Regions from separate parts of the Homo sapiens genome. Here regions 2, 3, 4, 5 and 6 are each linked to region 1. Evidence: fine-mapped expression QTL. A gene starts in region 1. Each other region holds a variant in brackets. All regions are shown on one strand. Distances are from middle to middle.

Region 1 (5,189 bases):
CCAGCCTGACTTCTGGGGTGTGAGCCCAGCTCTGATCCCCAGAAAAGCAGGCGAGTGAACACAGTGACTTAATATCATCAGGGAAAACAGCTGCACAGGAAAAGCGCCTGGGGGTGGTTTCTTAACCAAAACAAGCGTGAGTGGACCCAGACTAAGTCTCAGGGCATTTCCTTGCCTCTGACTTGGATGAAGTGGTCCAGGCTGCATTACTCACAAATGGCTTCCTGATTGCTCAAGACATTGTCACAAGCCACAGGACTTGCCCTGTGACCCTGGTGTCGACATGAGATTTTCTAGCTTGATATTCTCCCCACTCCTCATGGGTGGCCCCTGTCCCAACCAGGGCTTGTACCTGGCCTTAAAGGAAAAGGAGGTCAGTTCTGTCATTCAGTGGTGTTTCTTGGATCTGCCCATGAAGCCAGAGTTTCCTGTGAGGCTTCTGGCCTGAGTCAGCCTGGGGCTCAGGGAGGGCGTACAAGAGGGGCAGTACAGGGACATAGATAAGGGCCCAGGGGAAGTGCTTAGTGGCTCATTCTGCTGGTGGAATCAGGAGAATTTCATTGGGGAATTGCCCAAAGAGGACAAGGCAATGTGAGGAAGGGCATTCCAGAGAGAGGGAACTGCACGTGCAAAGACACAGCTACATGTGCAAAAACACAGAGGCACAGGAGAGCAGGGGCTGCACATGCAAGAACAGGAACACACAGGAGCAAGGCATGTGCAAAGTCACTGGGGCACACAGGAGCAGGCGCTGTATGTGCATATGGTTGTATAGAGCATCGGCAAGAGATAGGTCAGAGAGGAGTCCATGGATGCTACCATGAAAGAACCTGGAATGTTATGCCAAGGTACTCATTCATCCCTCTGAGGAGTAGCTGAAGACCAGAACAAGTGACTTGATGCTGAGTAAGACAGCTTTGTGTCCATGGACTCTACCTTCTCCCACCAGCTTGGCCATGTGGCTCACCACATCCTGGTGAGTCTTTCTTCTTACTCTGCAGTCCTCCCCTCTCCATAGGGCACACTGTTCCCTAGGGAGGACTGCCACAGTGATCTCCTGGTGGGCTCTCTCCCTCTACAGCTGCTAAAGTTGATTACATACCAATAGGACACTTGGGGATCTGTGGACATGGGGCACTCGAGGGAGTGTGGAGGGTCAGATGGAGGCTATGGCCATCTGAGCAGGGGAGGGCATTGTTCAAATCCCTCTTTACCAGCTACTGAAAGGGTCACACAGTTCTCAGGCCCAAATAGCCAGACCCAAGCTCAGATGCCTAAGAGGATACACGGAGTGATTATCAGGGGCACAGAGGCAGGTCACCGTTCAGCAAGTTCATCGGGGGCTCAAGCCAGGAGCTGTTACCATGCAGTGATGGGAATAGGGTGGAGAGGCTGGCATCACAGAGCAGCAGGAGCTGTAGACACAGCCCTGGGTTCTGGTGCCCGCCCTGCTGCTCGGTACTGTATGACTTTGGGCAGGTGATTCAACCTTGCTGTGCCTTATTTTCCAGATTTGAAACGCTATATATATAGCACCTGCTTCAGGAGTTTGAGAGTTAAATGAGATATTGAATGTAAAGCACCAGCCTCAGTGCCTGACACATAGTAGGTGCCTAATAAATGATAGCTATTGTTATGATTGCATTCCTTGGGTAATTTTTAGCATCTTGAGGCTGGATTCCGCTCCTCACAAAGCCCCAGTATACACCCTTTAAAATTATGCCAGCATCAAACAGAAACATGGCAATTAGCAGAGATTCACTATTCAATTCAGATCTTCCTATGAAGAGCCCTGAGTTAAGTGCTTCCTGCCCTCTTATTCCTGTCACCTTACTAAAGAGGCATAAATAGTATCCCTAACAGGCATCTTCCTGTTGGGAGTCTCCTGAGGAGTTTACATTGCCGGGCTGCTTGCTCCTTCCCAGACACACCTGACTTTCAACACGTAAAACAGTGAGCTCATAAGCGGGTCCCCGTGGATTGGGCTCTGGGGTGGGGGGGGGGTCTCGGCTACCTTCTCACCAAAGCGCTATCCCACCCGGGCTTGGCAGGGAGTGCGGCTCCCAGGCGGCGGCTGAAAGGCGCATTTCTTCCAGCCTCAGCAAAGGATGGCCGGAACCCCAGTACCCTCTCCCGGGCCAGGACCGCGCCCCGCGTCTCTGGCTGGCCCCGCCCCTCTCGGCCCCGCCCCGCCCCCGCGCTCAGCTTGGACAGCCACGCGTGCGCCCAGGCCAGGCGGAGGGACTGCCCCGCCCTGGTCCAGTGATTGATCAGCAGTGATTACTGAGGCTTTAATGGTCCGCTTGGATGGGAATTAATTCTGGGATGGATAAATAATGCATCGAGGTTTATGTAGTCCAAGGCGAGCCGTCCGTCCGGAGCCAGGAGAGGTAGCCGAGGGAGCCTGACGGGTGACGCCAGCGGCCACGGGGCCCCGAACGAGCAGGACATGAGGGGCGACTAGGCGCGAGGACGAGCAAAAGCAAGTGGATGACAGCATGAACGGCCCTGCGGGGCTGGCCGGACGGCTGCAAGAACATGCTGAGCCCAAAGATCAGGCAGGCCAGGAGGGGTAAGTCCAACTTTCTGGGGTTTCTCTGGGCACCGCATGTGCCTCTTGGCAAACGTGCGCGGACACTTGGCCAGCCGTCACGCCATGTGTCACATGGGGCGGGCGTTCTGGGACCATTGCCGCTGAATAGTGAGCATCCTCCTGAGGAAGTGCCCTTCCTCGTGAAACTCCTGGGCTGGGTGGGGACACGACCTGAAGTTGCAAAAGGGCGGTGGCCGGCTTAGTGCCCCAGTGGGTGTGCACACTTCGCCCCACATTCCACATTTTACAGAGGCCCTCGGTCGCTCCAGGTGACCTGGTGGCAACTTTAAGGAAACTTTGCTTCTTTACTAAAAAGGAAATGCCCAAGATTTGCCCTGTGGCCAACACAGAAGCACCCCTTACCAGGGAAGGCCATGCCCTGGCTTCTAGAGACAGCTGGGTGCAAGCGAGGGTCTTCGTTCCCGCTGCTTTGCAGACAGTATTTCCTCAAGCAGGCCAGGGGCAGGCAGGCTTTCCTGCCAGAACACTCAGAAAGCTGCAGGGTCTGGGGGCAGGACGGGTGGATGCGGGAGCAGACTCAGACCAGCAAGAGATGGGGGTCAGGAGAGTCCAGGACTGGGCTAGCCAGCCTGTGTCCAGCCAGCGACCCAGCACAGTGACCTGAAGACTTGGCCACTGTATGGGGCTAGAGACAGCATCTCCATGGACAACAACTTCTTAGCCACGGAAAGTGTCATTTTGAATGAGAACATCTGTCTTTTACAAAAATAGAATGTGTCTTTTCAGGTGGCCAGTATCTGGGAGGGCTGAGCTCCTTTTGTAAACAATGAAGTGGAGGATGGGTCTTTGGAGGTGGATGGAGCATTTGCCTGGGAGCTTGGAAACAGTTTGTGTCTCACCAGGTGTTTGCAGCGGGGGGCCTCCAGCCTCCTGTGGATTCACAGGGAACACACCCATCTTATTAGCACACTGCAAGCACTTGGATGATTTTCCTGGATGGGACCAGCCTTCCAGTGTGTTCCACAGACGTCAGGACCCCTCTGTGGGGTGCTTTCGCATGGGCTGAACCCTGTGTACCCCAATGGGCAAAGGAGGAACTTGCATGGCTCTGCTGAGGAGGGGGCAAGTCTAGTGATGACCCAAGGGATAGGACAAGCCAGATACCTCTGCGAGAGCTTAGTTCCACCCTCCCACTCCTGTGTAATGAGCTGGCCACTGGCCACATGTGGCTACTAAGCACTTGGCATGTCACTAGTCCAAATTGAGAAAAAGACACACCAAATTTTGATGATTTAGTACAAAAAAAGAATGTACAATATCTCATTAATAATTATTTTACTGAAATGACAGTATTTTGGATATATTGGGTTAAATAAAATCTATTATTAAAACTAATTTTACCTGTTTTACATTCTTTTACTATAGCTACTAGAACATTTACAAGTACATATGTGACTCATATTATATTTTTTATATTTCTATTGGACAGTGCTAGTAAGAGACCAGTGCTTCAGCAAAGGGGCTTACAGGCAGCCTGTCTTTGAAATCCAGGATTTCTCATAAATGTTTGTTTTAAGTCAATGGTTCTCAACCAGGAGCAATTTGCCCCACTAGAGAACATTTGGCATTGTTTGGAGTATTTTTGGTTATTCCAACTGAGGGGTGCTACTGGCATCTAGTGCGTATAGGCCAGCCATACAGCCCTCTTCCAGTCCTCAGTGTTCCATGAGGCTTCCACCATAGGGCTTTTGCACATCGTTCTTTCCCCTGAAATGCCTCCCACATTCACATGTGCGCACATGCATGCCTGTATGTGTGTGCACATGCGTTCATGCATACAAACATACACACACACCTTAATTCCTATTCACCCTCCAGTTATAGTATAGTTCAAGTGTTGCCAGCCAGGGAAGTCTTCCCACACACCCCAGTCCAGGCTGGATCCTCTGCTCCATCTCTCCTTTTCTTTATGGTATTTACCATAGGTTGCAGTTGTATACTCCTGAGTGTGACTGATTGGTGAATATCTGTCACTTGCATTGCTCCATGAGCTTCGTGAAAGCAGGAACCATTTCTGTTCGGGGACATCATTATACCCCCAATGCCAGGTACCTGGTGGACACTCAACCTGTGTTTTTTGAGTGAGTGGATGAATAGCTGGATAGAGGAGAAAGCATTTGCCTGGGTGGCTGGAGCACTGTCTCTACCCAAGCTGGCCCGGTACTTAGGAAATTTGGCCTCATCTTTCACTGACTCATATGTTGCAAATATTTTCCCAATTTGTTGCTTGCCCTTTATTTTTATATTAGAGTGGGTTTTTTTTCTAGATGTACCTGTTTTTAACTCGTATATATTTTCCTTTTAGAATTTCTGTCTTTGTTTGCAATATTTCAAAATAAAATTGTTGATGCTATTAAGGAGGCTCCTTCTTTTAAAGGAAATCATCAGACTGATGGGCCAAGTTATAGGAGCTTTAACCATCTCCTGTAGCAGGAGTGTCAATGTCTCAGGAGCCTTGATGAATGTTCAGAGCCTGGTCAATACTTTGGGGGTGGGGAGAGAAAGCTCTATTAATATGATGAAGTACCTTCAATGGCCTTATTCTTGTGATTGTCCCACAAGAAAGTAAACCAAC
Region 2 (5,189 bases), 75 kb after region 1:
TTCCAATTCCAATGTCTGTGGGTCTGTGTTATGTGGACATACAGTGTGTGTGCACACTGAATTTTAGCCAAACTCCTAATATAGATCAGAAATATGATGGGAGAAGGGGGTGGGGGCAGGGACGCAGGCCCAGATGAGACCCTCACCACCAAGAGGCAGAAGTCAGTGAGTGGTTGTTAAGAAGGTGACCAGCAGTGTTCAGACTGCCCAGATTGGAGGACAGGCTCTACCCTCTACCCACCAGCTGTGTGATCTTGAGAGCTCGCATAACCTGGGCGGGTGTCCATATCCTCACCTGTAGATTGGATCTGATGACATATCACCCTTACAGGCTATTGTGAAAATTAAACAAAATAATGCCCGTGAGTTACTAGTGCCAATCAAAGGTATGTTTTGTGATAAGCTGTCTACAAAGTGTCTACATCACGCCCTTCTTCAACAAGCTCCCTCTACCAGAGGCCAGGGCTGGCAGGAGACAGACATTATTCTGAAAAGCTAGGAGCAATAACCCGCGGTCTCAATCCAGCACTCCACAGGGCTTGTCTTTTTTAACTGGAAGTCTCAACTACAGTTATGTGTGCCTTTGTCCCACAGGCCATCTTATTCACCATCGAGTCCCATTCCTTTTCCCCAAAAAACATTTATCATAGAATTGTTAAGATCACAGGCTAGAAAGCAAGATGGGCTGGGTTCCAATCTGAGCTTAACCACTAATTAGCTGTTGTGACCTTGTGCAAATGACTTCACTTCTCTGTACTTCGGTGCCCTCACTTCTCTGTACTTCGGTGCCCTCCTCTTGCAAGTGGAAATAATGATGACATCGAATGCATAGGATTGCTCTGAATTCTAAGTGAACGTGCACATGTCAAGCTCTTAGCCTGGCACATTGTCAGGGCCAGGCAGTGCTAGCCATAAGGATTTTGCATCACTTCCTATGTTTCAGCTATCTGTAACTGCCTAACAGACTACTCCAAAGTTTAATGACTTAAAACAACACATATTTTCCTTTTTTAAAAAAATGTATTTCAATAGGTTTTGGGGGAACATGTGGTGTTTATTACATGAATAAGTCCTTTAGTGGTGATTTCTGAGATTTTGGTGCACCCATCACCTCAGCAGTGCAAATTGTACCCAATGTGTAGTCTTTTATCCCTCAGCCTCCTGCCACCCTTTCCCCCAATTCCCCAAAGTCCATTGTATCATTCTTATGCCTTTGCATCCCATAACTTAGCTCCCAATTATGAGTGAGAACATACGATGTTTGCTTTTCCATTCCTGAGTTACTTCACTTAGAATAATGGTCTCCAGTCCCATCTAAGTTGCTGCAAATGCCATTATTTCGTTCCTTTTTGTGGCTAAGAAGTATTCCATGGTATTTATATACTACATTTTCTTTATCCACTCTTTGATTTATGGGAATTTGGGCTGGTTCTATATTTTTGTAATAGCGAATTGCGCTGCTATAAACATGCGTGTGCAAGTATCTTTTTCATATAATGACTTACTTTCCTCTGGGTAGATAGCCAGTAGTGGGATTGTTGAATCAAATGGTAGTTTTACTTTTAGTTCTTTAAGGAATCCCCACACTGTTTTCCATAGTGGTTTTGTATTAGTTTCCATTCCCACCAGCAGTGTAGAGGTGTTTGCTTTTCACCACATCCACGCCAACATCTATTTTATTTTTATTTTTTTATTATGGCCATTCTTGTGAGAGTAAGGTGGTATCGCGTTGTGGTTTTGATTTGCATTTCCCTGATCATTAGTGATGTTGAGCATTTTTCTATATGCTTGTTGGCCATTTGTATATCTTCTTTTGAGAATTGTTTGTTCGTGTCCTTAGCCCATTTTTTGATGGGATTGTTTGTTTTCTTCTTGTTGATTTGTTTGAGTTCTTTTTAGATTCTGGATGTTAGTCCTTTGTCAGATGTAAAGATCACAAAGATTTTCTCCCACTCTGTGGGTTGTCTGTTTGCTCTGCTGATTGTTTCTTTTGCTATACAGAAGCATTTTAGTTTAATTAAGTCCCATCTATTTATCTTTGTTTTTGTTGCATTTGCTTTTGGGTTTTTGGTCATGAAGTCTTTGCCTAAGCCAATGTCTAAAAGGGTTTTTCCAATGTTATCTTCTAGAATTTTTACAGTTTCAGGTCTTAGGTTTAAGTCTTTGATCCATCTTGAGTTGATTTTTTTTTTTTTTTTTTTTTTTTTGCAATGGAGTCTCACTCTGCCTCCCAGGTTGGAGTGCAGTGGTGCAATCTTGGCTCACTGAAACCTCCGCCTCCTGGGTTCAAGCAATTCTCCTGCCTCAGCCTCCCAAGTAGCTGGGAATACAGATGACCACCACCATGCCTGGCTAATTTTTGTAT[A/G]TTTAGTAGAGATGCGGTTTCACCATGTTAGCAAAGCTGGTCTCGAACTCTTGACCTCAGATGATCTGCCCACGTTGGCCTCCCAAAGTGCTGGGATTACAGGCGTGAGCCACCGCGCCCAGCCAAGTTGATTTTTATATAAGTTGAGAGATGAGGATCCAGTTTCATTCTTCTATGTGTGGCTTACCAATTATCACAGCACCATTTGTTGAATAGGGTGTTCTTTCCCTACTTTTATGTTTTGTTTGTTTTGTTGAAGATCAATTGACTGTAAGTATTTGGCTTTATTTTTGGGTTCTCTATTCTGTTCCAATCGTCTATATGCCTATTTTTATACCAGTACCATGCTAAAAACAAAACACATTTTATTTGCTCACTGTTCTGCAGTGTGGCCATGGCTTGGTGGGGACAGCTTCTCTCTGCTCCACATGGTATCACTTGGAGAATCCACTTCCAGGACAGCCTCACTCACACAGCTGGAAGTCAGTGTGGTTGCTGGCTTGGACCTCAGTTCTCCATTTGGCCTCTCCACATTGCTAGGTTGGGGTTCTTGCAGCACAACAGTCTCAGGACAATTCCACTGTTTACAAGGGGGTGCTTTCCCTGACGACAGGGAAAAGCAGAAGCTGCCAAGTTTTCTTAGGACTTAGACCCAGAATTGGTCCAGAGTCACTTCTGCTACCTTCTGTCAATTAAAGCAGCTCATAGGGCAGCCTAGATTCGAGGGAGGGGATTACATAAGATGCAAGAACTGGAAGGTGTGGTTAGCTGGGGCCCCTGAGCTAACACATTGCCCTGCCTGGTCTCCAACTCCTCCAACCTGTGTTCGGCCCACATCTCTCACCTGGCTTATGCCTTTTGCATCTTTGCTTTTTCTCTGCTCCAGTCTCCCCCTTCCAGTCCCTATCTCGCTCTAGCCACCAGGCTAGCCAGTCAGAATCACAGGCTGCATCATGTCTTCTACCCTAAATGCCATGTTGTGACTCCCCTGACCCAAGTAAAGAGCAAGTTCTTAATGGGATACTACTGCACCCATTGGAGGACTGTGTTAGTCCATGCAAATTGCTATAAAGGAATACCTGAGACTGGGTCATTTATAAGGAAAAGAGGTTTATTTTGGCTCAAAGTTCTGCGGGCTGTACAAGCATAGCACTAACATCTGCTTGGCTTCTGGGGAGGCCTCAGGAAGTTTACAATCATGGCAGAAGGCAAATGGGAGCATATGTGTCCCATGGCAAGAAAGTAACAGACAGAGAGAGAGAGAGAGAAAAAGGAGGAGATCTCATACTCTTTTAAACAACCAGCCCTCATGTGAACTACCAGAGTGAGAACTCACTTATTGCCACAGGGATGGCACCAGGCCATTCATAAAGAATCAGCCCCATGACCCAAATACCTCCCACTAGGCCCACCTCCAACACTGGAGGTCATACTTCAACATGAGACTTGGAGGGGACACACGTCTACACCATATCAGGGACCATTCCTGTGCTGTCCCCTAAGGTGCTGGACCCCTCCTTGCAGCTCAGGTCCCACCTCAAAGCATTCTCCTCTGCAGAGTTTTCTTTACCACCCTCGGCAGACTGGCTTTCTGTCCCCTACAGCTCCCGGGGCAACCTCCTATCCCCCGCCCCACATTGGGCCTTGTGTCAGGCATTGAGCTGTGTTCAGTCATCATTTGTACATGAGTGAAGGAAAGAATGATCATTATAGGCTCCCTAAGCTATGCTTGTGGCTAAGATGGTACATTCCCATTTATTCCCTTCCTCTGAGCTACCCAGGGCTGAGCTCACACCTGAGATAGTGCTGTGAGGGTGCCTTGGATATTCTGGGGAGGAGCAATCCAGACTCCTGCATTGGAACTATGGAGGGCAGGTCCTGAGTCTCCTAAGAAAATCCTTGAATGACCTGGGGCATATCTGGGACCAGGGGCTCAGGCTGCACAGGCTTCAGGATCCCAGCAGCAGCAGCACCCCCTAGAAACAGCTTGACATTCTCACCACCCAACTGTGGGTCTCCCAGAGAAATGGAGTAAAGTGGCAGGAAGTAGAGCTCTGGATGAATGGGGCAGCCTCTATCCCATAGAAACTTTGTCCTCAAAGCTGGTGTCCAGCCTCCTCCCAGAGCCCATTGTGCCCACTGGATATCCACCCCCTGGTTCTATCTCTTCTGCCCTGTGCCTGGTGGTGGGCTGGAGGCTGGCCTTCCTGCTGGGAAACATGTCCTAGAGGCTCCCACCTCTGGCCCTTCTTCTGGAGCAAGGCGGCTTGAGCACAGCTAGAGCCTTGCAGCATATGTGATCCTGATGTTTTGGCTAAATTCTAGTTAGTTTGGGGTCATCATCAATTTGGGTGGCAGAGCTATGTTCAGAAAATTTGATTTTTCAGACAAATTCTATGCTAAGTGGGTGCTTTGCCAGTCGCAGCCCATGACTTTAGGCCTAACTAGGGAAAACTACCCATTCTTCTGTTTATTTAACCATTAAACCATCCATCATCCTTCCTTCTGTTCACCTATGGAACACATCCATTCAACCATCCCTCCACCCATCCATCATTCTGTTGACCTATCCACACCTCCATCCAACCAACCATCCATCCACCCATCCATCCATCTATTCACCTATCCACACCTCCATGCAACCATCCATCCACCCATCCATTCATCTATTCATCTATCCACACCTACATCCAATCAACGATCCATCCACCCATCCATTCATGTATTCACCCATCCACACCTCCATTCAACCAACCATCCACCCATCCATCCATCTATTCACCTACCTACACCTCCATCCAAACATCCATTACTCCATCCATCC
Region 3 (5,189 bases), 150 kb after region 1:
TCCCATGTGAGGACTGACCAGGCGCAGCTGCATCCGGACCCCAGGCCTTCTGCGGGGTCTGTCTCTTGGCCGTGCTTCCTCCGGTGACCTACCCCCAGGCTCTATCAATGGCAAGATGGCACAGCAGCTCGGCTCCCCTCCTTTTGGGTTCTGGGGACAGGAGAGCGAGTCTCCTCCATCTGCTCTGGGGCCGGGGCCATGTCCATCCTACCCATCATGGGGGCTTACCCAGGCCCTGGATGCCCCTGGGTGGAGCCAACTATACCCCCAGCCTAGGGCCGTTTGGGGATTCTGTTTCCCCTGACAGTGCCCCCACCCATTATGGGGCAGTTTTTTCATAGAGTTCTCTCTACATCAGGAAAAACTACCCTCCATGGGGCTTATGCCCTGTCTTCTTGGATCTGCCCCAGGATGGGCCCACCAGGACCTGCAGGCAGCCCTGGCCTCCCAGGGCTTCTCCTCTGGGGGCAGAACACTCAGCCCCTCAGCTCTTTCCCAGGCCCGTCACTGCAGCCAGGGGAGGGTGTCAGCTCCTCTCCTTAGATGTGGAGTCCAGGACTGACCACTGTTCCCTAGCGGTGCTCCACCCAGGGAGGTACGGGGGACCCTTCCTCTGGAGCTTTGTGAAGCTCCATCCCAGTGTTGACGCTCAGTGAGCTTGTCGTCCATTCTGAACCTCAGCCAGCCAGGCCTCTTCCATCCTGTGTCTCAGCGTTAGGGTTGCAGATTGCTTCAAATAATGTCACCTGGGTAAGGCCTGGGAGCCGAGACTTTTGGAAGCTCCCCAGGATCAGATGCTCTGCCCTAGTGCCTGATGCTACCTGAGGGGCTTCTGCAGACACAGATCAGACCTTGCCACTCCCCTACTCAAACTCTGCTGGGGCTCCCTGGAGTGGCACAGGCCGTCTGCGCCTCACCCACACTGCCAAGCTTCTCCCATCCTGCTGGGGGGGTCTCCACCTGGGCACACCTGCTCTCCCAAGGTGTGGTTCCTGGCATGCTCAGCCTCCTTTCTCCACCTGGCCTGCCTGCTGAAGCCCCCTTGAGAGGCAGCTGGGCACCCTAGGGTGGGTTCCATGCAGACCTGACTCTCGGCCTCCCAGCAGCCTGGGGCAGCCTTCCCTATGTCTTGGAGGCCCTCCCCTGTCTGCCTTCTCCCTCTCTGGCTGCTTCTACCCTGCTTCTGGAATTGTGTCAGGAGGGCCATCTCCATGGTGGGCATGTTGGCCTTGTCCCTCCACCCCCATCTCAGCAGTGACCCCCATACTGCCACGGTGGCCCTGGGCTTTGGTTTCCTCTCCCTTTAGAAACTCCTCCTGGGGTATCTGAGGCCATCCTTCCCACTTTCTGCCATTTCCATGGCAGCTCCTCTGGCTCTGCAGCTGTACCCACAGAGGGGCCCTCCCCACCCACCCCTGAGGGAGGCCCCCCTTCCCACCCAACCCCAACAGAAGGTCCCCCCTCCCTACCCACCCCCAACAGAGGGTCTCCTCCTCACCCACTTCCAACAGAGGGTCCCGGGATGGAGCTCTCTCCCCAAGGCCATAGCCTGCCTGCCTGCTGGGGTGTTGGCTTCTGTCCTGGCCCCTTCCGCAGGAAGCCCCCTCCTCACTTTCCTGCTCATCTCTATAAGAAGGTCCCCTTTAGCCCCAGGTCCTGGGCTTCTCTTCTGCTAAAGCCTCACCAGGCCTGGAAGCCTCAGTGCCTGGAGCTGTCCCATACTTGCCCCTTCCCAGCACAGTGTCCCCTGGGCACTGGGCTGTC[A/G]GTCTCCCGGGTTGCCACCCTGCTGCTGAGCTCTGAGGACAGCCTCCTGTGGGCCGGAGCCTAGGGCTGCATGGACTCCTGGCCGCCAGGCTCTCCTTACTCCCTCAGCTGCTATCCTTTGAGGGAGGGAGCACTGGGAGGCCTAGGGGTGGAGGGGCACCCACATGCATTAGAAATTCTAAGGGGGGTGGGTCTTGACAGATAACAAGTAAACACCAGGGACACCAGTCCCGGGCCTAGTGGTAGGGAACCTCCCAGGGTGCTGCAGATGGCAGGGCTGGGCTGCTCAGGGAGGAGCCCTGCGGACACCCAGGTGGGGTGAAGCAGGCGGCCCGGCTGGGGGGCAGGTCGAGGAAGTGGGGATGGGTGATGAGAAACGGACTCTAGGGGAGTGAGGCGAGTCAGGACCAGGCTGGAGGCATGGCGTGTTCTGCATAGATGCCGGTGTTGGCGTGGGCGGGGGGTTCCCTGGGTACAGAGAGGTGACGAGGAACCTGCAGATGGAGGGTCACCTTGCTGCGGGCTGCACTGACCACCAGGGCCTCTTTGTCCCCAGGGCAGGCACCTCGTCCCCTGACCAGCTGCTGCCCTTTCTGCCCCACCCCTGCCCCCACCCTCCGCCTGCGCTAATGTCGCCGCATGCTGGGAGGCCCACAGGCTGGGGAGGCGCCCACAGGACCACGGGCTGTACAGAGTTCTCCTTGGGTGCTTGTTGGAGGGGGGAAGGGGACAGCAGTTTAGGGAAAAGTCTCAAGAAAAGGCCTGGTGACAGCTGTTGGAGGAAAGGCACTGCAGTGGGGAAGGAGGGAGGGAGGGAGGGAGGGACGAGGAAAGGAAGTAAGAGCTCAGGTACTGAGCGGATAGGGGGTCAGGCAGGGCCAAGCAGCAGGACCCTGCGGGGCAGGGATGCAGCCGGGCAGGTCTGCAGAGGAGGGGTGGCTCTGTGTCCACTCACCCAGGGCAGAAATGCTCCCATCCCCCCAGCTGCAGAAAAGGGGAAGACATACGGGCTGGCTGCCAACCACACTTCCCTGCCTCCTGCCCTTCCCCCAGTCTCTTGCGCTCCACTCAGGCTGCCACTGAAGCCACGGGCTCCCAGTGGGGAAGGGGCCGCTGGGCTCAAGCCTGGGTACCCAGGGCAGTTGGCCAGGAACATGGCCCGGGAGAAGGCCGAGGAGGGTGTGATAGCAGCATGCCTGGCTGGAGATGGAAGGAGGGTGGGATGGGGGCTGCCTGGATCCAGCCAGACCAAGAGTCACTGAGCCTCAGGCAAGGAGGGGCCCCAGGTATATGGATTTGGGGTGCATATGGATACATGGAACCCCAGAATCCCAAATGTCAGGGCCAGAAGGTATTTATCTCAGTGAGCCTAGCCTGGGATTCATCCGGGATCAGGTGATAGCATAATGGCACAGCCACAGTCTCCTGGCCCCGTCTCATCTTTCCTGAGGGAAATGCAGCCCAGGGTTTAAGTCCATGGTTCTAGACAAGCAGATGAACAACCTGGGGCCCATATACGGCTTGGAACGCAAGCTCGGAGGAGATGCCAAGGCTCTCGTTTAGGACCTGAACTGCAGACCCCACACAGGACCCAGGGAAGGACTATGCCAGGCCCATTGCCACCACCATCCACAACTGGTCTACTTCTGCCTTGGCAGCTCCGAGCCAGAGCGGGAGACTGAGGCCTGGAGTGGACTCCTGGGGCACTGGAGAGGGGGTGATGAGCTTAGAAGCCTAGGTGTCACCACTGTGGACAGGAAGAGAGGAAAGGGCCTGACCTCCGACCTGCTCCTGCTGTTGGTCCCCGGATACCTGCTCCCCAACAAGGAGCCAGCAGCCCTGCATTGTGGGCGCCTTTGATGCAGCTCCTCCCACTCCAGCCAAAGTCAAGTGCAGTGGAGAGGGCAAGCTCGGGCTGGGGGTTGGCAGCACCTATGGAGGGCCTGCAGGATAGCTGTTCCTACCGCAGAGCAGGCAGCTCCCACATCGTCTTGCAGGGGACCTTGGGATGGCCACCAGGCCTGTGGAAGGGGCTCCCTGGCCCATGTCCCAGGGCCCTCCCCTGTGCAACCTGACCTGCATCACACTTGATTCCTCTGGCCCAGGGCAGCTGCTAGGGTGGAGCAGCTGTGCCCTGCAGGGCCCTGTGGCTTCACAGTTCCTGGAGTCCTACGCAGTCTACGCAGGACAGGTTCTGGACGGACTGACACAGACATGAGACTCAGGGATTCTGAGCAGGTGCCTAGGCATGATGGGTGGTCCCTGAGCTGGAGCTCCTGGCCATGGATACTTAGTCGTCCCTGCCCCAGCTCTATCCACTGCTCCCAGAAGCAGCACTGGCCTTTCCTTGACCAGGGCAGCTGGCCGCAGATGCAGCCCCCAGTGCGCCCAAGAATGCACCTGAGACCAGAGGCTGCCCCTTGGCGTCAGGGCGTACCAGTCACCCCTGAAGTCCCCTGGCATCCCAGGCCTCACACACCTGTCCTCTTCCCCCCCACAGCACAACAGACGTGCACACGGTGGCCTCCCTGCTGAAGCTGTACCTGCGGGAGCTCCCCGAGCCCGTGGTCCCCTTCGCCAGGTACGAGGACTTCCTCAGCTGCGCCCAGCTGCTCACCAAGGACGAGGGGGAGGTCAGTGGCTCCTGGGGATAGCTCCTGGGAGATGGGCTGGCTGGGTGGCAGCCTGTAGACTCAGGACACAGACTCTGACTTTTCATGAATTTTCATGGCACATGGATCCTGTGGAGGCCTGCTGTGTTGGGGGTGTGGTGGGGGCCTGGAGCATCCTGCTTGGGTGGGGGAGGGGCCAGGGCATCCTGCTCAGGTCGGGGAGGGCTGGGGAATCCTGCTGTCTGGAGCCATACCTGTCTGCGGCCTTGGTCCCTGGGAGGGGTGGGTCCGGTGTGCCCAGCTCTGGCTGTCACACCAGTAGGTGCTCACACTCCCCACACCCGACTCAGGCCACTCAGGCCCGTCACAGGCTCAGAAACCAGGACATCTTTTATTTATATCTTGCTTCCTTCCCAAAAGAATTTGAGCTGGCTCCCAGGACAGATGAGCCAGCCCTCCCGTCCCCACCCGTGCAGGTGCTGGTCTGCAGCCCCAGGTGGCTCAGGGCCAGGGAAGGACTGTTTGCCTTCCCTGCGGCCATGTGGGAGATGAGGGCTCACTATCTGGCAAATATTTGTGTCTTGATAAGTGAGCTGAGTGCTGGCCCTGACATTCCTCCACGGGCCCTGTAGAGGCTCACCCCTCACACCAGCTCCTTGGAAGCAAGTTAGCTTCCCAGGAGGTCACAGCTGGGCCCTGGCCACTCCTTGAGGGGAGGTGGAGGTGGTGGAGCCCTCTGGTCTGTTGGGGCTGGGCTGCCGTAGCCCCCACCTCCCTTCTCTTTGCCCACCCCTCCTCGCAGTCAGAGAACAG
Region 4 (5,189 bases), 30 kb before region 1:
CTTTCATATCCTGATTCTATGAGTGGCTCTGCTTCCTGAACCCTTTGTCCTGTCCCTTCTGACTTCCCTCCCAGCACTCTGGGTTTTGCATGCCACTCAAGGTCTGGGCTTTGCCTGCCCACTTCGTGGCCTCTTTGTGGTGACCTCAGGTGAGAACTCCTCACTGGTCTCCCACTGTCCTACTAGCGATGACTATAGCCATGGGTCTTGAGCTGGTACTGTTTGCCAGCAGTCATGGCTCTAAAGCTTGGACACACATAACACGTGTAAAGATATATCCCCTCCTCTCTAGGAGATCGTGGTCTGCAAAAGGGCAGGGCTGTGGTGCAGGTGGTACAAGGAGCAGCAAGAAACAGGAGGACCCCGATGCAACCCATGGATTCAGGGCAGGGTCTCAGAGCAGGGAGAATCCCTGTTGGCTCTTGGAGCCTGGGCAGGAGCAGCCCAGTGGGCAGACTCAAGCAGACATTCCTGGAAGAGGACCAGGGCCATACCACAAGCTCTAAGGCCTCCATCCTGCTCACCCCAGTCTCCCTGCACAAGCACCAAGCATGGGACACAGGCACACAGACAGCATGGATGCAGGGCTGGGCTGGAAAGACCCAGACACCCTGAATGTCTCCTTCATGCAGTGTCCCCACAGCTAACATGCCTTTATCGACAGCCACCAGAGAAATGCTGAAGCTGTGCAGGGCAGAGGAAGAAGGAGCAGCCATGTCATTAACCCCTTAACCCCCAAGCCTCTCCAGGATGTTCACCTGCACCTGGCAGCACAGGACCCCTGGGAAATGAGTCTGAAGATGGAGATTTTCCTTCTTCTTTCTTTAATGAAAAGAGAGAGAGAGTAAGGACCTGATGCTACCACCAAACTAAAAATAATAATAAATAACAACATTGAGATCACCTTGCACGGTTTACAACTCTCTTCAATATCCACAGGGGTGATGTCATTTAATTCCTGTAGCCAGCTTGCAAGATATTAATGTTCCCATTTTACAGAGGAGAAAACTGAAGCTCAAAAGTGCAGTCCTTCCATCCTGCTTCCCCAGCCAGGAAGTAGTCTAAGTTTATGTTGTCCAATAGCAGAGCCTAAGACAAGGGCTTGGGTGCAGGTGGTTTATTTGGGAGGTGATGCCAGGAAGCAGGACTGATGGGGCAAAGAGTGACACCAGGAAGGAGGGAAGGCCAGTGTGAGGGGCATAATGAAGGTTGCTGCTGTCCCAAGACTCACTTCCACAGGGACTCTGGGAAGAGTGCAGACTCACCTGCCATAAGCCTGGAAGGGGAGAGGGTGGGGGTTACCCGGCCCCCTTTCTCCCTTGGCTGAGGGCAACCCCAGGGGTGTGGACACCCAGCCCTTCTGGACTGCATTTGTTTGCCCAGGGCTTAGGGTCCCTGTGGCTTCAGAGAAAGCCGAGGGCTGAGAGCCTGGAGCGGGAAGCCATCAGTGGGCTCACCTAAGAGGGGACGTTTCACCACAGCTGTGGCTGAACTTGGAGCTGGCCAAGGGGCTGGGACAAGTTACGGAGCACCCAAAGCTGTGCTTCAAGCTATAACCTAAACCCCAGGCATTTTTCTCTTACCAACCTTGGAGGAGTATGAAACTAGTCATGCCTGAGGAGACAGGGAGTCGGGGTCCAGGGAAACACCAGGCCCAGTGCAGAAGTGGGGGTGGGGGCAACAAGAGACAGAGGCCCAGAAACAAGGTGAAGTGCTTCATTCACGGTGGACCCAGAAGGAGCCTAGCCTCCAAGAGCCTCCCATGGGTGCTGGAATTCCCTTGTTCACACTGAGGAAGAGGGAGGGCAGGTACATGAGTCTGCTCGGGCTGCCATGACAAAGCACCTCGGGCCCCAGGGCTTTCACAACATACATGTATTTTTTCCCATTCTGGAGGCTGGAAGTCTAAGATCAATGTGTTAGCAAGCTTCTTTCTCCTCTCTCCTTGGCTTGTAAATATCACCTTCTTCCTGTGTCTTCACACAGTTGGTATCTGTGTCCTTATCTCCTCTGCTTATAAGAACTCTAGTCATATTGGACTAGGGCCCACCCTAATGACCTCATTTTAACTTAATCACTCATTTTAACTTTGATATTTAAAGGCCCTATCTCCAAATACAGCCACTTTCTGTATGGGGCGGTGGGGGTTAGGCTTCATCATGAACTGGAGTCGGGGGACACAATTCAGCCCTCTTGCTTTCCTGGGCTCAGAGCTGTCAGCCCTGAGAAGCAGAGGAGAGTCTATTCCAAAGAACAGGCTGGGCAGAGCCTCAGAGAGTGTCTA[G/A]ACAGATGCCCTGCCAGCCACACTACCCTCTAGGGAGCCAAGCGGAAGCCCAGGCTCACCCACCCCCAGCCACAGAACCAAATAAGGGCTGAGTCAGCGGCTCTTCTTAGAGACCCAGTTTCCTACAATGGTTTCTGTTTCTGCACATCTGGGAGAAATGATTTGACTCTGGGAATGGTTGTGAAATGGGCAAACCACAGTGCAGGCTCACCGCCCTCTGCACCCAGCAGCTTATCCTCTCCTATGGCCCAGCTCTGTGGGGGCAGAGCACTTTTCCCTGTTGGCTAGATGAGGAAGCAGAAGATCTGAAGTTTACTGACTTGCCAAAAGCTCACAGCTAGTTAGTGGCAGACAGGACTCAACCCAGATCTGAGCTGACCCATCTTTAGTGCTCACTCACAGCAGTACCTCTGCTTTTAGGGACATTGATGGCACCTTTTGGCTGCTCCCATCAAATCCGCCACCCAAATCTGAAAGTACCCATTCAGCTACCCATGATACTACTGAGCTACTAGTGCAAACTGGCTTCTCTCAACAGGTGAGCTGGCTAGCAGATAACACTTCCTGCCAGTTATCATAGAAACAAGCGTGGGAGGAAGCAGCATCCTGGTGGCCAGGAAGAAGGTGAGGGAGAACATAGGGCATAGATGCCCATGGTGTCAACTCTCAGACACCTGCCCCAGAGATTTCCAGGAGTCAGGGCATCCCGCAGCCAGCTTGGCCCAGCATTCAGTTAGGAAAGGCTCTCCCTCCTCCCATGCCCAGCCCTCTGCTCCCTCCTCCTCTTAGCCCCGTGGAATGATCCTGTCTCTATTAACCTGCCCATCTCCTTCTGCAGATGGATGTCAACAGGGATTTTCTTGTGGAAAGTCCACAGGGAAAGCCAGCCCTCCCTCCCTGCTGCTGGCATCATTTTCCCACAAAATGTAAAAACAGTCTAGAGAAAGCCAGGCCTGGGTGTGGATCCAGGTTCTACCACCTGCTTACTCTATGCCCTTACTCAAGTGATATAATCTCTCTGCTTCATTTCCTCATTGTAAAAGTGAGACCACAATAGGCCATATCTCACAAGACTGTAATAAGGATTACATGTCTAATTAAAAGAAAAGAGTTCAAGGAAAGGCACAGGGTAAACCCTGAATAAGTGGGAACTCCCTTCCAGACAAACAATCAGATGCCACTGTTAATCTCTGGCTGAGAATTGTTTCCTTTGGGAATTTTTTGAAAACCAAGTGATATGATGGAGACTCTGGACACAGGAACCCTACATTTGGAGCTTTCTCCCAGTTTTACTTCTCCAGCATGCAGTCACTGCAAACCTCAGACCTGGGAGTCTCAGAGGAAGGTAGATTGTCTGCAGAAATGAGAGCTGACTGGGGCCATTAAAGGTGGACAGGCCTGGGAAATGATCTCAAAAGTTTCCTAAGGGTTGATAATTTATTCAGTCACCCAGCAAACATGAGTTGTGCCAGGCACTGCTCTAGGCACTGGAATACAGCAGGCAACATAATTGGCAAAAACTCTTACCTTCTGGAGCTCATGCTCTTCTCATATCATCCAATGGAAAGGCCTGAGGGAACTGTCCACTGATGTCCTCCGTGTGGCAGGTGATGTCCTCTGGCAGGTGACTCAGGATCTTCCAGGGGTAGATGAAGGAAAAGAATAGTCAGCGTTGTGCAGTAGTGATGAAAATGGAAAGACTCTGGCTTCTGGTTTCATCTTTGACATGTGAAAAGCTTAGACATTTTCACTCTCATCCTTACAACAAGGTAAAATCTGTGCAAACTTAAAATCAATGATTTCGCTCTGGCATCTGCAGACACAGCAAATATTAAAGACGGCACAGCTCCTAGCCTGGGTGGTTTTGGGAACACCCCCCAATTTGCAGTTGGTGTTGGAAGTGAGGCTGGTCTTGTGAAGACCTGTGTGCACTCTAAACTTGGAGTTGGCCAACTCCAGGCAGTGACAGAAAACAAACCACAGACCTAAGCAGGATAAAAACAAAAAATATACACATCTTAGGTGTCTCACATTCAAAATGCAGAAAACAAAAGACAGAGAAAATCTTGAAAGAAGCCAGGGGTATGGGGATCACCTTTCCTTTAGAAGAACAAGGATAGGAATTATATCAGACTTCACAACAGAAGTCATGCAAGCAAGTGGAGAGTGAAGGGAAATATTTCAACTGTTGAAAAAAAAATATGTTGAATAGTTTGTACATTAAAACTGCTGCAATAAAACTCCCTACCAACATAGGATTGCATAACTACTGGAATTTTTCTTCAAAAGTGAAGGCTAATAGAAAGGAATGAAATAATGTCTTTTGCAGCAACTTGGATGGAGCTGGAGGCCATTATTCTAAGTGAAGTAACTCAGGAATGGAAAAGCAAATATCATATGTTCTCACTTGTAAGTGGGAGCTAAGTTATGAGGATGCAAAGGCGTAAGAATTATATAATGGACTTTGAGGACTCGTGGGGAAGGTTGGGAGGAGGTTGAGGGACCAAAGACTACATATTGGGTACAGTGTACACTGCTCGAGTGACAGGTGCACTGAAATCTCAGAATTCCCCACTATAGAATTCATCCATGTAACCAAAACCACCTGTACCCCAAAAGTATTGAAATAGAAAAATAATTTTCATTGTAAAAAAAAGTGAGACTAAATAAAGACTTTCCCAGACAAACAAAAACCAAGAGTATTCATTGCTTGTCCTACAAGAAATGTTAAAAGAGAGAAAGAAAATGATGGGTGAGAAACTCAGATCTACATAAAGAAAGAGCATCAGAGAAGGAATAAATGAAAGTAAAACAAAGTCTTCATTTTTCTCATGCTTAATGGATCTAACAGGTAACTGTTTGTCCAAGTAACAATAGCAACAATATGTAGGGTGATTATAACACG
Region 5 (5,189 bases), 29 kb after region 1:
ATGCCATAGCTTTGAGGAAGACATAAACAAAGAACACTCATTGTTTCTCTTTAAAAAAAAAAACTTTTTCAAAAAAATGAAATCAGAGACCCAATCACTGTCAATAATGCTAAAGCAAAAAAGACAAGTTAATAACAAAATGACATTGAGGAGAGTGTGCAGGCATGAGAGAGCGAAGATCAAACACACACACACAGACACACACACACACACACACACACACACATACACTGCATAATACTTCTGTAGTTAATGAGAAAACCAAAACTCAAATTCAAACTTCCAGTTAAGGGTGACATTTAAAAGTCACATTTGGCTCCTCCACATCACAAAACTTCATGATACAGCACTAGAGGATGTTTTTAAAGGCACAAGCACAACTAGATGGAAAGAACATGAGGGGAGAAAGCATTCTGGATGCAGGAAAACAGATGAGGGAGAGGCTGCTGATTTATTTAGCTGATCCAAGACAGCTAAATCCCAAACCAGCACAAAGGAGAGCATGGAAGCTGTCTGGTTTGCAAAACAAAACCCCTCAAAGACTTGGGGCTTGGCAGGACTAGATATCTCTGGAAATGAGGGCAAAAAAGGAGCTCAGGACAGGAGCACTGGGTGAAGGTTAACTTAAAAAAAAGCAGTTAGGGCCAGGCGCAGTGGCTCACGCCTCTAGTCCCAGCACTTTGGGAGGCCAAGGCAGGCAGATCATTTGAGGTCAGGAGTTCGAGACCAGCCTAGCCAACATGGTGAAACCCCGTTTCTACTAAAAATACAAAAATTAGCCGGGTGTGCTGGCACATGCCTGTAATCCCAGCTACTCGGGAGGCTGAGACAGGAGACTTGCTTGAACCTGGGAGGTAGAGGTTGAGACAAGATAAGCGCTACTGCACTTCAGCCTGGGCAGCAGAGCGAGACTCTGTCTCCAAAAAAAAAAAAAAAAAAAAAAAAAAAACCAAAAAAGAGCAGTTAGATCTCAGATTTTCTGAGCAATCCAGTGCCAAGAGGTGACTGCCCGCCCCGACTCAGCTGTAAGACTGGAGTTGTATGTATTCTCTGAGAATAAAAGGGAGCCCTTTATAATGGGGACTCTGGCCCTTTCTTGGTGGAATATCTTAGAGAACAGGAAGGTTGGGTGAACATCAGTGTGCAGACCAGTTCCTTAGGCCCCAGTCTCTATCCACATTTGGTTTCCAAGCCCCAGCAGTCAGGAGTAGCCCCCAGGAAGGAAACTGATGAATTTTCTCCAGTAAATTTCTCCAGAGGTTCTCCAGTAAAATGGCGGAGGTGGACCCTCCTGTGTATGCCCTCCCCATCCTCCGACGCCACCCAGTCAGCTCCATAGAGAACCATTCTCAAGTGGGAGTGATAGGCCTGGTTCAGCAGACATTTGAGGAAACACTCTCATTTGAGGAACCAAGACAAAAAGAGGAAGAAAACAAAAAGCAAGTTGCAGGCAGCAGATACTGTGCAGGGGGAAGAAAACTGTTATACAAAACTACTGTAATATCCTCAGAGAGAATCTCTAAATACGGAAGAGTCAGAGGAGGAACCGATCCCCAGAAGTCAGAAATAAGATATCATGAATAAAAAACTCCAAAGAAGGGTTGGATGAAAACTTGACACTTCTAGGAAGAAGAGGACAATAAGAGAGACAACCCAATGTCCGAATAGAAGGAGTTTTAGAAAAAGAGAAGAGAGAAATGAAGGAAAAAGAGTCTTTAGAGAAATGCTTGAAATAAACTCCCCAGGATGGGAGTATAAACACTAAATACTAACTGAGATAACCAAAATTACCATGGAGATTTGGGAAGGTGTGTGGTTGGGTGGCGGTGGGTGGCGGTGTGGGGAGGGATGGGTGAGTGGAGAAGGGGCAGAAAGCAAAATCTCACTGCCCATGCTAGGAATTCCACAGACAATGACTAAAATGTAAAATCAAAAAGGAGTAACATAAGCATACTAATTAGAAATAAATATCTTAAAAAAAGGAGAAAGATAGAAAAGAAACCTCATCTGAGACCATAGAACGTGGTGACAGATTCAGGCAATGGCAGGGGAAGAATTTGCTGCCTCATGATAAGCCGTGTAGAACTCTTGATTCTTCAAACTATGTGCAAGTGTAAACTTTCATTGTAAAAAAAAAGTGAAATAAGATGGAAATAATTTATTTTTGAGATTTTGAGCATACAAATAAGACAAGTCAGAGCCATGGGGCAGGGATGTGAGGCAGGGGAGTGAGTTGGTAACAGGGTCAGCTTGCATTTTTTCTGTGTTATTGTAATTTCTCA[C/T]GTTGAGACTATCTTCATGTAAGTCCATATTTTAAAGTATTTTAAAAATTTAAACAAGAAAAGAAAAACTATAACCAAAAAACGGAATGCAGCAGGGCCACAGTGCTAGAGGTTCTTTGGATGACCAGGAGGAGAATGGGGAGGCCAGGCCAGGGGCTCCCTCTTCTAGAAAGGGCCACTGAGCCCCACGCTGGCCTCTGAAGAGGCCCTGGCATATTGGAGGTTCTTGGAAGATGTGTTTAGAATGAACCTAGGAATGTGTGGGAGGTCCATGGATGCTATGTGTCTGGCAGTCCACACCCAGTGGGGAGCCCATAGTCTCTGACGTAGGGCATAGGATGCTCATCCTACAGGCAGGAACACAAAATGCAGATGTGGGACTAGAGGACTCCTGTAAAGGGGCTTCACTGCCACACCCAGGATCTAGGTCCTCACTTCGTGGGCTGCGATAGGGGTCAGTGAAGGTTGTGGGTTGCTTATACTTGGCCATCAGAGCCCCAAGAGGAGAGTCATCCTGCAGCAGCACAGATAGGGGCTGACCAGGACCAGGCTGGAAGCAGAAAGGCCACTTAGATGGGGCTGGTGTTCTAATATCAGCTGAGGCCAAGAAAATCCTCACCATGCTGGAACAAGGGCTGGGGGCCTTGGAAGAAGCAGGGGAGGGAACATGGCAGGTGGAGTTTGGAATCCACACTTCCCCCTCCCACCTACCTGCCATGGCTGATGCAACATTATGTTCTAGAAGAGGCAATTTAAAAATCACTTTGAGAGCAGGCTAGGTTTCTGTTGTATGTTTTATTTTTTTTCCAGGAGAATAAGTGAGGGAAGCTCAGCAATAAGGAGCCATAGAAGATTGATTTAAAGTTTGATGTGATTGAGTAAAAGCTTGAGACTGGTGGGGAGAAAGTCAAGATGGATGGGAAAGCACATGCACTTCTAGGAGTGGAACATTAATATTGGACAGTCGGAAACCAGAAATCTTTAAGAAAGAGGAAACCTCAGGGGAAGAAAGAGAGGCCATCCTATCCCATAACTTGAAAGTCACAGGAATATTTCAGCCTGCAGGGAATCTTCATTTCCCACCCCATTGTTTACCAAACTTGCACGTCAAAAACAAAAACAAAAAATAAAATGTTGCTTTCATGAACTCTGTTACTCCATTCTCCCATTGCTATAAAGAAATACCTGAGACTGGATAATTTTTTTTTAAAGAGGTTTAATTGGCTCATTGTTCTGCATGCTGTACAGGAAGCATGATGCTGACCTCTGCTCAGCTTCTGGAGATGCCTCAGGAAACTTAGAATCATGGCGGAAGGCAAAGAGGGAGCAGTCATGTCACATGGCCAGAGCAGGAGCAAAAGAGAGAGCAGGGAGGTGCCACACACACTTTTAAACCACCAGATTTCGTGAGAATTCACTCTATTTTGAGGACAGCACCAAGAAGATGGTGCTAACCACTCAAGAGAAACCGCCCCCATGATCCAAATACCTTCCGCCAGGCCCCACCTCCAACACTGGGGATTACAATTAAACATGAGATTTGGATGGAGACACAGAGCCAAACCATATCACGCTCCTTCCCTGAGTCCTTGACCTGGAGTAGATGCCTGGGTTGTCTCCATTTCTCAAATGAGGAAACTGAAGGACTGACATCAGGCCAAGACTAACAGGTACTCACTCTCAGATAGCGCCTGAAAGCTGACACAAGTTCAGTGAGACTGCTAGGACAACCCCCTGCCGTGCCATTAATGTCTGCCCACAAAAACCTCACACCTTTGGCTGGCTCTATCTTCCATGGCCCTCATCTCAGCACCACCTGGGGGTACGATGAAGATGCCATCAGGTGTCGGAGCTCATCTTGTGCTCACAGCTCACAGGACCGCCCCTGTGTCAGATGCCCTTCACTTCTGGACCTCATAACCTCCACCCAGCTCAAGTTGACTTAGCAAGCCCTAACTGTGCATCCTTCATAAGCTGTAAATTGTTACTCAAACCAGCCAAGAGGATGTCACTGCTATTATTATTGCATTACTGTTTTGATATTGCTGTTGTTATTTATAACACTTCCTCAATTTAATTTCTGTTCTCCATTCTATATCATAAACCTCATTCAGGTGGGGCTTCAATCTGTCTTATTATTTCTCTTTTCCTATCACCTAGCGGTACTTGACACATAATTGGTATCCAGTAATATTGGGTGCTTACTTGAATAATTGAATGAATGAATGAATAAATGAGAAAAATAAATGGAATGAATGAGTGCATAGTGTGACCCATATTTGTATTAGATCCTCAATGGAAAAATAATTTATTGCTTTTGTAAAGTGCCTGAGAATTGGCAAAGAGCTTATTGACTGCCTTCCCTATCAGACTGTAAGCCCAACAAGGTGAGGTTTTTGTCTATCTTGTTTATCTCTGTGTCTCAGTATCCAGAACAATGTCTGACACATAGTAGAAGCTCAATAAACACTTGTTCAATAAACATTCACACAGCATCTCCACAAGGCCAGGCACAATCAATTTCCACTGTACTGGTAGAGAATGTGGGGCTCAAAAAGGTAGAATGAAAGCTTGCATACTATAATGGAAAAAACCATAATATTTGGAACCAGAATACCTGGCTTCAAGTCCCATTTATACCACCTACTAGCTATAGATTTGGGAAGATCATTGAAGCCCTCTTGTTCCTACTTTTGGTGTGGTCCTTTGAGGCTGTGGCTTCACTAAGCATTGGACAAATGGAAGTTGCTGTGGTTGATAGTGTTGTCAATGCTGCCTAAACACTCAGAGATAAGACTATTACAATTCTTAGAATGGGTTCTGAAATGAAAGACCTTCAAGAAGCATGCGAAGGCATCTAATATGAATTATAAAAAGGAAGTTGCAGATCTAGAAAACAATGATTGC
Region 6 (5,189 bases), 45 kb before region 1:
GAAAACAGGAATTAGCTTGTCTGCTTGAGGATGTGGTTGGTTCTTTATAAAAAGGATACAGAAGAAATTTGCACAGACTGCCAGCTTCATTATGCTGCCGACAGCTTCCAGCAAAAGGAGGACGTTTGCAGCCAGATATTTCAGTAAGAATTTTTTTATGTTCTATGTGGGAAATGATTACCTTTGCATTTGACTTCTTGCTTGAGGGATGGGGTCCCCGGAGGCTGTCTTGGTCTTGTGGCTGAGAGCACCAGGCGGCATCTGTGGTCAGGGTTCTGACCTCCTTCAGCTCCTGGAAATGGCTGATGGCACAAACCCCACCCCTGAACTATGGCAGCTGCTCTGTGTCTGCCTGAAAAACAGAGACTTCAGGGTCCTGGGCTCTAATGACTCAGGGCTCTGATTGCATTCAGAGTCTGTAAGGACTCCTATGTCCAAGGACCGCTGGGGCAGTAGGCAAGTCCTTCACAGGGGAACGCTGTGTGCAGCTGAAGGCTACTCTGCATCTCTGCTTGGAAAGGATCCAGCCAAGGGGCTAGTAGAGAAATAGTGAGGACATCTCAGTAACCCTCACTAAAGTGTCTGGGAGGTAACTATTAGACCAAATGGGATGGCTGTGACTGTCTGTTTGGGTCCCTCAGTAAAGTGCCTGGGAGATAATTGTTAGACCAAGTGGGATGACTGTTTGTTTGGGTCACAGGCAGGTGCTCGCTGGGTGGGCTGTGCAGGTGAGGATTGGGTGGATTGTGCAGGTGATGGTTGGGTGGGCTGTGTAAGTGATGATTTGGATGGGTTGTACAGGTGCTGATTGGGTGGGTTGTGCAGGTGCTGGCTGGGTAGACTATGCAGGTGATGATTGGGTGGATTGTGCAGGTGCTGACTGGGTGAGCTGTGCAGGTGAGGATTCGGCTTGTTGTGCAGGTGCTGACTGGGTGGATTGTGCAGGTGCTGGCTGGGTGGACTATGCAGGTGATGATTGGATGGGTTGTGCAGGTGCTGGGCTGCATGGGCTGTGTAGGTGATGGTTGGCAGTTGCTAGTCAGGTCATATGCATGACCTGATGGGCTCAGTTATGAGATGATGTTGCCTGAGCCCCTCCAGGACTGGTAAAGATTGGAAATTCTAGAAGCTAGTGGGTGAAATGCAGTCATGGACCTCAACCTCCACATTAAAATCACCCAAGGTGCTTTTAAAAATTCCCAGGCTCCCCCTCCAGAGATGCAGGTTTAATTGGTCTTGGATGAATCCAAGATATCAGCATATTTTTAAAGTCCCAGGTGATGTGATGTAATGTAATATGCTACCAGGTTCAGGATATAGTGGACCAAGCCCAGGGTGGGCTCAGACTCCACAGAGCCCCTTTTCTGTGGTCTGAGTAGATATTCATGGGGTGAGGAGTAAAGCTCTGTGTTCATGAAGAACGGAGTGGGCTAGAAGCCAGGACCCCTGGGCCGGCCTCGTGCTGCAGACACTTCTCACACTGTCAACTTCCCTGGATCTCACTTTCCACAGGAGAAAATAGGGGGTGGGGGAGCAGCTGAGATTAACCTTTAACTGTTCAAGCCTAATACCTAATATCTCCAGGTATTATTTTCCCTGTGCTAGGTTTATTGCATTATCTGGCTTGGAAGGAACAGTCACTTGCTTTTGTAGGAGGTTCCAGCCACCAGATTTCTATGATGAAATAAATTCTTCCCCAGATTCATAGCATAGGTGCAAATCCTTTGAGAAAGGGACAGAGGACATACTGCATGACATACCTGAACTTAATGAATTTGATTGAATTAATGTCTTTATCAAGATGAAATGTATATAACATGAATTTAACCATTTTGAAGTGTAAAAGTCAGTGGCAATTCATACATTCATGATGTTGTGCAACCACCAGCTCCATTTAATTCCAAAATTTTTCCATCACCTTGTACCTATTAAGAGGTTGCTCCCTCTTCTCCACCCCATGCAAACATCAATCTGTGTTCTGCCTCCATGGATTTTCCAACTCTGGATTTGTCATGTAAATGGACTCATGCAATATGTATCCTTTTATGAAGCCTCGTGTCTGGCTTCTTTCACTTAGCATAATTTTTCCAAGTTTCATCCACATTCATTCCTTTTGAGACTGGATTAATTTGTAAATGATTACCTAATCTCAAACACTTTGACAACTCTAAAAATGGACTGGCAATGCCATTTCGTGAAAGGCTGCAGAAAAAAAAAAAAAAAAAAAAAAGAGTCTCCAGCACAGGGGGAGGGGGCTTCCCCTCCCCATCCTTGGTCTCTCGGTTAGCACCTCTGTGTGTTTATCTTTCTTCTCTCCACCTGCCACCTCCTGGTCTCTCTCTCTCTCTCCCTCTCTCTCTCTCTTTCTCTCTCTCTCCCTCCCTCCCTCCCTCCGTCTTTCTCAGCTAATGGAGATTATTGAGAAACTTAAGTTTGCTTTTAACTGTCATTTTCAAGGATTGAGGGCAAATGAAAGGTCCTTATGCGTTCAATTGTACTGCTATGCTTCATTTCTTCACTTTGTCCACAATCTTGCCACATCGAGAACCTACCAGCACTTTCCCTCCAGCAGGAGCTGGTGGTGAGCCTCTTGGCCTCTCACTTGGTGAGTTCTGTGCTAAAAGTCTCACCCAGCAGTGGGCAGCACCCTCAGCTCCATCACTGTGGGCCTCAGCTCCTCCTAGGGAACTCTCCTGCCAGCAGGACTAGCTGCAGCCTCTTTTCTCACCAGCTCCCAAACTTCAGACCACTGGTCTGCCTGGTTGTCTCCCAAGACTGCTGGCTTCTCCCTGTCTGACCCTCCTGGCACTCCCCATGCCAAGAAGCCACTGTGCCTCGGGATCACAGTGGAGAGAAAGACGGTGGCCTCTGCCCATACCCAGCCAGAGTGTCCAAAGAGAAGGAGAAGGCATCTCTGAATCCAACCACTCCTTCAAGTCCCCAAATCCCTGACCTGCACGCTGGGACCAAGGCTGGGAGCAGCCTGGGGTAGGGAGGCTCCTTCGAAACCCTCTCCCACGCCTCCCTGACTCTGTGGTTGTCCTCACCTTGGCCTTTCCCAGAGCAGACTCTCTCCCCCACTGCTGGCAGAGATGTAAGGGGATTGTGAGAACCCAGGTAGGGGGGCATGACTGTGTCCTGAGAGAATAGGGGACTTAGAGAGAGGGG[C/T]GCTGAAGCAGTTGGAATGGGGTAATAAGGGAGGAATGGTAGGTGGATGCCATATTCAGAAACTTGGACTTGTTCTCGTGAGGCATAGGGAGCTATTGATGGTTATAAGCACAGGACTGATCTGATGAGAATGTTCATAGGAATAATTGCATGGCAGCGGGGCGAGAGGTCGGCTCTCACCTGGATCTTTGCAAAGGATCCTCCCCATTGCTCTTCTTCTTCCCACCCTTGGCCCTTCCATCTCTCCATACTGCACAGAGCAAGACTCTTTCAACCTAAATCCAATCAGCACTGTCACATCCATGGGCATCCATGTTGCTCAACACATCCATATGGATGCCCAGGCCACTTACCTCTGTCGGCTGCCTGCCCTCCTCTGGCACCCGCCTTGCCCATCGTAGGATCTGCTGCCAAGCACCCCACGCTCCCCCACCCCGCTGCGCCTGCTCTGCACCAGCAGTGCCGGCCTCCCTGCTGCTCTGATGTTTGCATGATCTGCCCACTCTCCGGACCATTTTCCCCCCAGGACAGCTGCCTGGCCTACAGACTCACCTCTTTCAGACTTTTACCCAAAGCTTTTATTAAGGCTTTCTCTGACCACCTGTGTGAGTCTGAATGGGATGAGTTACACAACCACCGGGTCACCTGGGTGAGTTGAGGGGTGGATCCTGCCCTGTTAATCATAGTGACTTAAAGACCCAGGCTGATGCTGCCAGACCAGAGGCCCGAGAAACAGTGAGCTTGTGAATGGTCTCACGTCAGCAGTTAAATCCTCAGCCGGGAAGGGACACACATCACACTCTGCTCACAACTCTGTCCCACACTAATCACTGCCCCAATCAACTGCAAGGGGCCCAGGAAGTGCAGTCCCACCACATCCTGGGGGCCTGGAGATTTTAATGACTGCAGTAATTGAAACCCTGCCCTGCCTTCCCATACTCCTTTCCCATCTTTTTTTCTTCATGGCATTGGTTATTATCATATTCTATGTATTTCAACAGCCTTATTGATATGTAAGTTACATGCAATAAAATTCACCCATTCGAGGTTCACAGCTAAATTATTTTAACTACATTCATGGAGTTGTAAAACCATCATCACAATCCAGTTTTAGGGCATTTCCGGCACCTCAAAAAATTCCCTCAAGCCCATCTGCAACTAACCCTTCCTCCCAACCCCAACCTAAGGAAACCATTGATCTGCTTTTTGTCTTCATAAATGTGCCTTTTCTGGACATTTTCTATAAACGGAAGCATAAACTGTGTAGTGTTTTGCATTGGGCTTCTTTCATGTAGCATAACGTTTTGAGGGTCATTCATGTTCTCGTGTGAATCAGTGATCAGTGTGCTCCTTTGTAGCTGAGTAATACTCCCTTGTAGGGATGCACATTGTGTTTCTCCGCTCACCCGTTGATGGACTTTTGGGTTGTTTTTGGATTGGGATTATTACGAATGATGCTGTTATGAGCATTCACATGCATATGCTTCTGTGAACACACGGCTTTCATTTCTCTTGCTGGGTCGTATGGTAGGTTTATTTTTTAATTTTTAAGAAACTGTCAAAATGTTTTCTGAAATCTCTGTACCATTTTACATTCCCACCGTCATACAATCCCACCTCATACATAAGGGTCCCAATGTTTCCACATCCTCACCAACACTTGCTATTGTTTTATTATAGCTATCCTAGCGGGTGTAAAGTGGTATTTTATTGGGGATTTGATTTGCATTTGCTTAACCATTAATGATGTTGAATGTACTTTCCTGTGCTTATTAACTATTCATATGCCTTTTTATTTCCATTTTTATATTTTTTGATACTGAGTTTTGCTCTTGTCGCCCAGACTGGAGTGCAATGGCGTGATCTCGGCTCATTGCAACCTCTGCCTCCCGGTTCAAGCGATTCTCCTGCCTCAGCCTCCTGAGTAGCTGGGATTACAGGCACCCACCACCACGCACAGCTAGTTATTGTCTTTTTAGTAGAGACAGGGTTTCACCATGTTGGCCAGGCTGGTCTCAAAC

Direction of the effects. Positions count from the first base shown, and alleles are read on the strand shown. Sizes are in standard deviations (SD) of each study's normalised expression. Not every link is listed here.
For the expression in testis of the gene that starts at base 2,262 in region 1, allele A in region 3 goes with a lower level than allele G (small effect, 0.29 SD a copy in GTEx).

Evidence for each region. PIP is the estimated chance that this variant, and not a neighbour inherited with it, causes the effect.
Region 2: its variant is fine-mapped to the expression of ARHGAP22 in whole blood (INTERVAL, PIP 0.98).
Region 3: its variant is fine-mapped to the expression of ARHGAP22 in testis (GTEx, PIP 0.93).
Region 4: its variant is fine-mapped to the expression of ARHGAP22 in whole blood (TOPMed, PIP above 0.99). The same link has a PIP of 0.9 or more in blood mononuclear cells.
Region 5: its variant is fine-mapped to the expression of ARHGAP22 in whole blood (INTERVAL, PIP above 0.99).
Region 6: its variant is fine-mapped to the expression of ARHGAP22 in whole blood (TOPMed, PIP above 0.99).

Annotation. Positions count from the first base shown.
Region 1 is chr10:48,602,146-48,607,334 of GRCh38, reverse strand. It overlaps ARHGAP22 (Rho GTPase activating protein 22), which reads left to right and starts at 2,262. Exons shown (of 10, transcript NM_021226.4): 1 at 2,262-2,572. The coding sequence starts at 2,539. RefSeq lists a silencer at 2,095-2,254 and an enhancer at 2,111-2,841.
Region 2 is chr10:48,527,255-48,532,443 of GRCh38, reverse strand. The region is part of intron 3 of ARHGAP22 (Rho GTPase activating protein 22); the gene reads left to right. Among named protein-coding and RNA genes, the nearest start is that of ARHGAP22-IT1, 18 kb to the right of the region's middle. The variant A/G (reference allele first, on the strand shown) is at 2,366.
Region 3 is chr10:48,454,210-48,459,398 of GRCh38, reverse strand. ARHGAP22 (Rho GTPase activating protein 22) reads left to right here. Exons shown (of 10, transcript NM_021226.4): 6 at 4,265-4,397. Among named protein-coding and RNA genes, the nearest start is that of ARHGAP22-IT1, 55 kb to the left of the region's middle. RefSeq lists an enhancer at 4,378-5,189. The variant A/G (reference allele first, on the strand shown) is at 1,765.
Region 4 is chr10:48,631,706-48,636,894 of GRCh38, reverse strand. It overlaps a transcript of ARHGAP22 not described here. Among named protein-coding and RNA genes, the nearest start is that of ARHGAP22, 29 kb to the right of the region's middle. The variant G/A (reference allele first, on the strand shown) is at 2,285.
Region 5 is chr10:48,573,562-48,578,750 of GRCh38, reverse strand. All of the region lies in intron 2 of ARHGAP22 (Rho GTPase activating protein 22), which reads left to right. Among named protein-coding and RNA genes, the nearest start is that of ARHGAP22, 29 kb to the left of the region's middle. RefSeq lists enhancers at 1,302-1,351, 3,722-4,223. The variant C/T (reference allele first, on the strand shown) is at 2,283.
Region 6 is chr10:48,647,188-48,652,376 of GRCh38, reverse strand. It overlaps a transcript of ARHGAP22 not described here. Among named protein-coding and RNA genes, the nearest start is that of WDFY4, 35 kb to the left of the region's middle. The variant C/T (reference allele first, on the strand shown) is at 3,169.